Linked DNA regions of Homo sapiens. The protein of the gene in region 1 interacts with the protein of each later gene in a pairwise test. Each region holds a gene or a part of one and is shown on either strand. Other genes may lie near its edges. The genes, in order: CROT and MLYCD.

The links.
Region 2: the proteins of CROT (region 1) and MLYCD come close enough for resonance energy transfer, tested with the Homo sapiens proteins (one large-scale study listed by BioGRID).

The regions. Positions count from the first base shown.
Region 1 is NC_000007.14:87,352,132-87,355,951, forward strand, and holds part of CROT (peroxisomal carnitine O-octanoyltransferase), read left to right. Parts: intron 1-3,820. UniProt on the Homo sapiens protein: Beta-oxidation of fatty acids. The highest activity concerns the C6 to C10 chain length substrate. Converts the end product of pristanic acid beta oxidation, 4,8-dimethylnonanoyl-CoA, to its corresponding carnitine ester.
Region 2 is NC_000016.10:83,897,511-83,901,430, forward strand, and holds the start of MLYCD (malonyl-CoA decarboxylase, mitochondrial), read left to right. Parts: upstream 1-1,604; 5' UTR 1,605-1,634; coding exon 1,635-2,162; intron 2,163-3,920. UniProt on the Homo sapiens protein: Catalyzes the conversion of malonyl-CoA to acetyl-CoA.

The DNA.
Region 1 (3,820 bases):
TGAATTAGTTTTCAGGTGTTTTGGATGCCCTTTGGCCAAGAAGAGGGTCCATTTTGTTGGGAAAGGGCTTAGAACTTTTAAAAACTTATTTATTTTAGTTTATAGTTCCCCTTTTTTTTGTTAAGGTATGCCATCAATGGCCAAGCTCTTATTTTGTCCAGTATTGATGTCAGGGTGGTGTGCTACCTGCCCTGGATCCATCATGTCCCTTGGTGGGACCACTATGGCCAAGGGACTTAAACAAAAGACTTATGGCCAATTAAACTTTCTAGGCCAGATGGGAATGGAGGTGGGCAGGCACTCCTTAACCTTAAAACCCCTTTTAAGCAACATAAGAGCCAAAAGCCAAATGGGACGGTTATAAAATTTGCTTATTTATAAATTCTATACATTAAGCTATTTTAATCTTGACTTGTAGCAATTAGCCATATAAAATACAACATTTTGTTCAGCTATAGAGGCAGTTTGCCTGACCTTGATTTGGAGGGTCTGAATTGATTTTATTCCCCACAACAAGCCCTTACAATCTCATGTGGTAGTCTCTGGGCCTGGAAGGACTAAATAGTTTCAAATTATAGAGGAAAACAAAACATAAGGAATTAATGTTTTAAACAAAAATGTCATAAGCCCTACCTAGTTATGAGAATGACATGAAAAGAAGCCCATACGTAGCCAAATACTTAAATTATTTAATATCAAGGCATAGAAAATTATATTCAGATATAGGCAAAATTATTAAATGAATCTTAATGTTTTGAATACAGGCCTGTCCCTATGTCTCTGTCTGTAGGTCTCATGAAAATAGTTTACTTTGATTGTCCAGGTCTAAAGACAAGGCTTTGATTAGCTTCAGCTTGCTATCAGATACTGGCAGGAGTCAGTGCCTTCTTTAGATGAGCTATATGTACTCAGGAGTCAAAGCCCTGTAACTGTAAGGCACAAGGATTAGTTAATAGCACTTGATAAGGACCCTTTTAAGGAACTAGAGGGAGTCCTTTAACGGATTTTTTTTCTTTTATTTTTCTTTTTTTTTTGAAACATGGTCTCGTTCCGTTGCCCAGGCTGGAGTGCATTGGTGCAATCTCAGCTCACTGCAACCTCTGCTCCCTGGGTTTAAGCAATTCTCCCAACTTAGCATCCTGAGTAGCTGGGATTACAGTCATGCACCACCATGCCCAGCTAACTTTTTGTAGTTTTAGTAGAGATGGGGTTTTGTCAAGTTGGCCAGGCTAGTCTCAAACTCCTGACCTCAAGTGATCCGCCTGCCTCCAGTTCCCAACATGCTGGGATTACAGGTGTGAGCCACTACGCCTGGCCCTTTAACTGATTCTTTTCTAGTATATATAATTATCAGGGTGGAGGTGGTATGTGTTAGGCCATTTTTGCATTGATATAAAGAAATACCTGAGGCTGGGTAATTTATTTTCAAAAAAGAAGTTTAATTGGCTCACAGTTCTGCAGGCTATACAGGAAGCATAGTGCTGGTATCGGCTTCTGGAAAGTCCTCAGGAACCTTACAATCATGGCAGAAGGTGAAGCAGGAGCAGGCACTTCACATGGTGACAACAAGAGCAAGAAAGAGAGAGTGACAGTGAGGAAGAGGTGCCACACACTTTTAAACAACCAGATCTGGTGTGAATCAGAGTGAGGGCTCACTTGTCACCAAGGGGACAGCCCAAGCCATTCTTGAGGGCTCTGCTCCCATGATCCAGCCACCTCCCACCAGGCCCCACCTCCAACACTGGGCGTTACATTTCAACATGAGATTTGGAGGGGACATCCAAACTATATTATGGTGATAATGGAGTTCATGGTGTGACTAAAAGCTGTAAAAAGATTCTACAGTCTTGTAGTGATTAATTTTTATAACTTTAATAAATCCCAGCAATAAGACTAAGTCAGAGACTTAATTTAGGATTTTGATTTTGAGGCTGTTTATTAAACATGTTAAAAGGCTGAAAACATTTGATCAAAACAGAAGCAGAGGTCATTGTAAAATAATAGTTACTCATTTAGCCAAAGTGATAATGAAAATGCTTTAGAAGCAATACAGAAGGTTACATGATGTAAAAACCTTAAGCCTTTTAAATCTTAGTTTTGGCAACCAAAAAAACCTAATAAAGACAGCATAGGAATTATACAATCTTGTTTCTTAAGACAGTTACCAAAAAGGCAAAGAAAAATTCTGCAGTGTGACTACTTCTGCTTATGGGAAGCCCATTTAGATAACCTGGACATCAAACCTGATGAAAAAAGTGCTTGGATTTAACTGGACCTAGGAAGAGTATATTCAAGGTTATGATTATAGCATAGGATTACCTCACTCTTAGGAACAGCATTAGTTTTTTGATTACATTGACAATTTAGATGTATTTTAAAAGCCAAAAGTACAGAATCAAGTTATACTAGAGGTAAACATTGCTTTTCTAGACCTTCAAGATAAAATATTTTAGCATTAGCTCATAACAACAGTAAAATTAGAACTGGAGAAAAAAAAAGTTGATGAGAAAGCTGAAGGAAAGAATTATCTCAGACCTCAAAAAAGCAAAAAGCAGTGAGACACAGTAAAAGCTGAACTTCTGGGATATGATTCTGAGACTTTTTAAAAGAAACAGTTTATAAAAGTAAAAGTAAAATTTCTTGTAATTTTATTAAGAGCAGATTAATACCATAAAAAAATCTTGTTTTAACATCGGGGACCAAAATTTAGAAAGACTTATTTATAAATGATTTTCTTTTCACTGTAACCAATTTAATCACATACAAAATTCCTTTCATGAATTCCCCTTCACAAATCTTATCATGACTTACACAAACCGTCTATGACATGCTTGGACTTTCTGACTTGTTCTAAACTTCTCTCTTTCCTAAATAATCAGTCATTTTACTTTAGGACAAAAATTTACCATACAAGATACTTTTTCATACAAAAGTATTCCCTTCTGTATAACCTTTCTTACCAAAAATATGTATTTTTTTTTTTTTTGAGATAGGGCCTCGCTCTCTTGCCCAGGCTAGAGTGCAGTGGCAAATTCACGGCTCATTGCAGCCTTGACAGCCCAGGCTCAAGTGATCCTCCCACCTCAGCCTCCCAAGTAGCTGGGATTATAGACATGTACCACCACACCAGGCTAATTTTTGTATTTTTTGTAGAAATGGAGCTTTGCCATGTTGCCCAGGCTGGTCTTGAACTCCTGCCCTGAAGCAATCCACCTGCCTTGGCCTCCCAACGTGCTGGTGTTACAGACATGAGCCACTGGGCCCGGCCAAAAGTACATTTTTATATTCATAACTTTCTTCACATCTCTCTCTCCCTACTTGTTCCTTTTTACCTTCTTTCATAGGTAAATTTTAAATAAGCTCTAAATTATATAAAATTATTATTATTTTTCAACTTGGAGAATGTTCACTTCCCTCAATTGAGAGATGCTGAATTAAATAACCCAAAGAATGAAAATCATCAAGACCAGAAAAAAATGACAGGTGTAAACTTCAGGGCATGCAAGCACAGGGCGACATGTGTCACTAGCGAGACACAGACAGCAAATAACAGCCGATTAAGAAACAGTAGGTACTGACAAATACAACTCTGAGACTCAAATAGGTTATCCAACTCTGGGTGGGGCCTCTAACCTCAACCTGGGGAATATGAGTATTCCTGTGTCTCCTGGGGCCTAGAAGGCTGAGTATATTGCAAAGTATATTGCAGAAAGGAAAAGGGACAACAAAGGGAATGGAAGAGACAACAAAGAGCACTCACCTATACATGAATCCAAAAACTTAGGAAGCAAGAAACCTAGAACTATTTGTCAGATGTTAG
Region 2 (3,920 bases), on another chromosome or scaffold:
AGATGTTGTTGTAAATAGAATTGTTTCTTTAATTTCATTTTTGGATTGGGGCAGTCTTTTGAAATAAGGACATGAGTGGGAAAAAGCAGAGGATGGCTGTTGACGCCTAGAGAAAAAAGTATAAACACAGAGAAAAAAAAAACAGAAGCCAGAAATTACATAAAAAGGAAGGCACCGGGAAAGATGAGAAAGAACAGGGTTGTGGGAGTACTACACTTAGCAAATGCTTAAGCAAAGTCAAGCTTTCAAGACAAGATTCCTAAAGCAAGGCAGGAGTATCCTAGGACAGACAAAAGCTCACTCGACAAGGCAAAGAGACAAACACCAGAGTTTGGACCCCACCAACTCCCTTAGCCAGCTGGCAATATGGTTTCACCACTTCTTAGAAAAGAGGAATGGAGAGGTGTCCTCAAAAGCCACCACTAGGCTTTCAGAATGTTTTGTGTGTCTGTGTCTTGGCAGAATGAGCCAAACGTACTTTCTTCGTGCCCCATAAGATGAGACACACCCAGCAAAGGCTGTCCTCATACAGAACTACCTCCAGGTGTCTTTTATACTGCAAGACCTGCACCAAAGGGTTCTACCTATAGAAATCCTAGCACCTAGACATAGTCAACCAAGTACATGGCTCCCTCACCCTCCAACCAAAGATGCCATATTTCCATCAGAGTGGAACAAAATCCCACTGTGTTCCTAATGCCTCCTGCAATTTTGCATGTGGGAGACATGGCTGGTATGTGACATTCTCTTCTACAGATTGTAATGGATTGGGGAAGGAGGGGGAACTAGAGTTCAGGCCTATCTTTCTAGAGGACAAAATAAATATGCCTTGATAACTGCAATTATCTGAAAACTATTTCAAAGAAAACTCTTTGTCTCATTCTGGCATTTGCTCAAGGGTATGGCTTTCCATCAGTCTCTCTGTCTCCATGTCTCTTTTACATACATATGTATGTGTATATGCGTGCGTATGTGTACATACATCCATACATATAGACATATTCTCTCTCTCTCCACACACACTCACACACCCCTCCAACCTCTGTGGCTCTGAGCGTCATGTGTGTAAGACACTGACGCGAATGGTGAGTGCCTAGGCAGGGGTCAAACAAAGGCTACCTACCATGCCAGAGGATTGCCACAAACACCTCTTAAGCAAGCATATTCCTTGGCTCCTCCCAGACACACTGAATCTGAATCTCTAGGATTCTGATTTCGGAGCCCAGGAATCCTCCGGTGCAGGAGTTCCCAGGTGACTCTGATGCACCGGGAGGCTGGAGGCGCTCGGATCTAGAGAGGAGGCGGCACTTGTGCAGTGCAGTCGGGAAAGAGAGGAGGGGCTGGGCCGGTGCCTTTAGGCGGTCAGGTGTTAGGACCGGAGTACAAGCCGCCAGCCGCGCGGGAGCAGGCCCCGAGGCAGCCCAGCCGCGGGGCAGTAACCTTTAGCCACACTTGGCCTCCGGCCGCCGCCAGAGCCGCTCCGCCCCCGCCGCCTCGCCCCCACCGCCCCGCCCTCCTATTGGCCGCGTCCCCAGCCGGGCTCGCGGCCTCGGCCAATGGGGCCGGCGCGCGCCGGAAGCCGGAAGCGCGGCAGCGGCGGCGGCGCTCCCCCTCGGCAGCTGTTGTGGGGCACCATGCGAGGCTTCGGGCCAGGCTTGACGGCCAGGCGTCTCCTCCCGCTGCGGTTGCCCCCGCGGCCGCCCGGGCCCCGGCTGGCGAGCGGGCAGGCGGCCGGCGCCCTGGAGCGGGCCATGGACGAGCTGCTGCGCCGCGCGGTGCCGCCGACGCCGGCCTACGAGCTGCGCGAGAAGACACCGGCGCCCGCCGAGGGTCAGTGCGCGGACTTCGTGAGCTTCTACGGTGGGCTGGCCGAGACGGCCCAGCGGGCCGAACTGCTGGGCCGCCTGGCGCGGGGCTTCGGCGTGGACCACGGCCAGGTGGCGGAGCAGAGCGCCGGCGTGCTCCATCTGCGCCAGCAGCAGCGGGAGGCGGCGGTGCTGCTGCAGGCCGAGGACCGGCTGCGCTACGCGCTGGTGCCGCGCTATCGCGGCCTCTTCCACCACATCAGCAAGCTGGACGGCGGCGTGCGCTTCCTGGTGCAGCTGCGGGCCGACCTGCTGGAGGCGCAGGCCCTCAAGCTGGTGGAGGGGCCGGACGTCCGGGTAAGGGGCCGCCGTCGATCCCCCGGCAGCGCGGACTGGCCGCCCTCCTCGAGTAGTCCTCACTTGCCCCCTCCAAGTCCCACACACCCCGCCTTCCCTGCCCGATAGCACGCTCACTTCGCCCGCAGTTACCGCCTGCCAACTGTGTCCCCTTCCCACGCTGTCTGAGTCCTGGCCTCGTCAGAGCACACCCCCGCCTTCCTCCAGTCTGTCCTTGAAGTCCTCACTTGTATAGTGTTTACTAAATACTCAGCACTTGGTGGTCTTTAAGGTAGCTGTCACCTCTCGTACCTGATTAGTGTGTGCTCTACAGTCTTTTGAAATTATTGTAGCTGAGAAGTGTTTCATCTATATGGTATACCTGAACTAGAGCATCAGGCAGCCTTCTGAGACCCTGGATGGTGTTTCAGAAGTTCACTGGGCACCCGCTATGTGTGAGACATTGTCCTGAGAAGTCCTGTGAAATGCACAAAGGTAAATAGGACTCAAGGTCACCACCACCACCCAGGAGTCTCCATGGCTTCTGGCCTTGTCTGTGCTCCATGACTTTTGGGAGGGCATTTAACTCCCTGCGTTCAGTACTTAATGTGATGATTCTGAGTTGACTTGAGGTAATCAGGCATTAGCACAGTTCATTCATGTTAAATGCAGACACATACTTTGAGATTTAAATGATTATGACCCGAAAGAAGGCCTAGAGCAACATATACTCTTCTTTTATACTGTTAGTATTAAATACGGCGAAAAACTAACCTGCCCTTTTTTTATTTTTATTTTTGTTGCCCAGACTGGAGTACAGTGGTGTTATCACGGCTCACTGCAGCCTCGACTTCCCCAGGCTCAAGCAATCTTCCCACCTCAGCCTCCTGAGTAGCTGGGACTACAGGTGCAGGCCACCATGCCCGGCTAATTTTTTTTTTTTTTTTTTTTTTTTGTAGAGAGGGCGTTTCACCATGTGGCCCAGGCTTAACCTGCCCTTTTAATGAACGAAAAATGACGTAAATGTTTCAGGAAGTTTTGGACATTCAGAAGTTTGTTATGTGCAGTTGGTGTTAAAAAAAAATTGAACACTTGAATGATTATGACTTGACCCATTTAAGAACTCTAATACTGGTTTAATAGTTTACATTCCTTCAGTCTTACGTGGGTGATAACACGTATCCCTTTTACAGTAAAGGAGAACATGCTGAGGTTGTGTTACTTGTCCTGAAATTCAGAGCGAAAAGCTCTTGCTGATCACCCACCCTAATCCAGGGTTATTTGCACTACGCTTTATATCACTGTCTTACCGTTAATCAGATGTTTATTAGAAACTTTCTTTTTTGGCTACTTAGATGCATAAAATTGGGCATAATTAAGTATGGGATTAATGTCAAGAGTGACAACAGTGGCCATGATTTGATTCCCCGTGATAGCTGGTTAATTTACAGCGCTAAGTGTTACTGAGGGCCAGGCATCTTTGGCCGTAAGATTCTCAGACAGAAAGCCCACAGTTGCTAATTGCATGACACAGAATCAGTCATGAATTCTTACTGTGTTGAATTATCATGTTCTGGGCTCAAGCCTAGTCTGAATAGCTGAGTTTTTCTGATCCACACTTGGACATAGTACTTGCAGTATATCATCCCCCCATGTAAATGATCAGCTCCTCGAAAACTGGGAAACTTGTCTTTAAATTTCTTGCATAGCAGAATGATGAATGAATCATTGCAATAGATTCCTGGGTGTCCTGGCATAAGACACACTTGACACACTAAT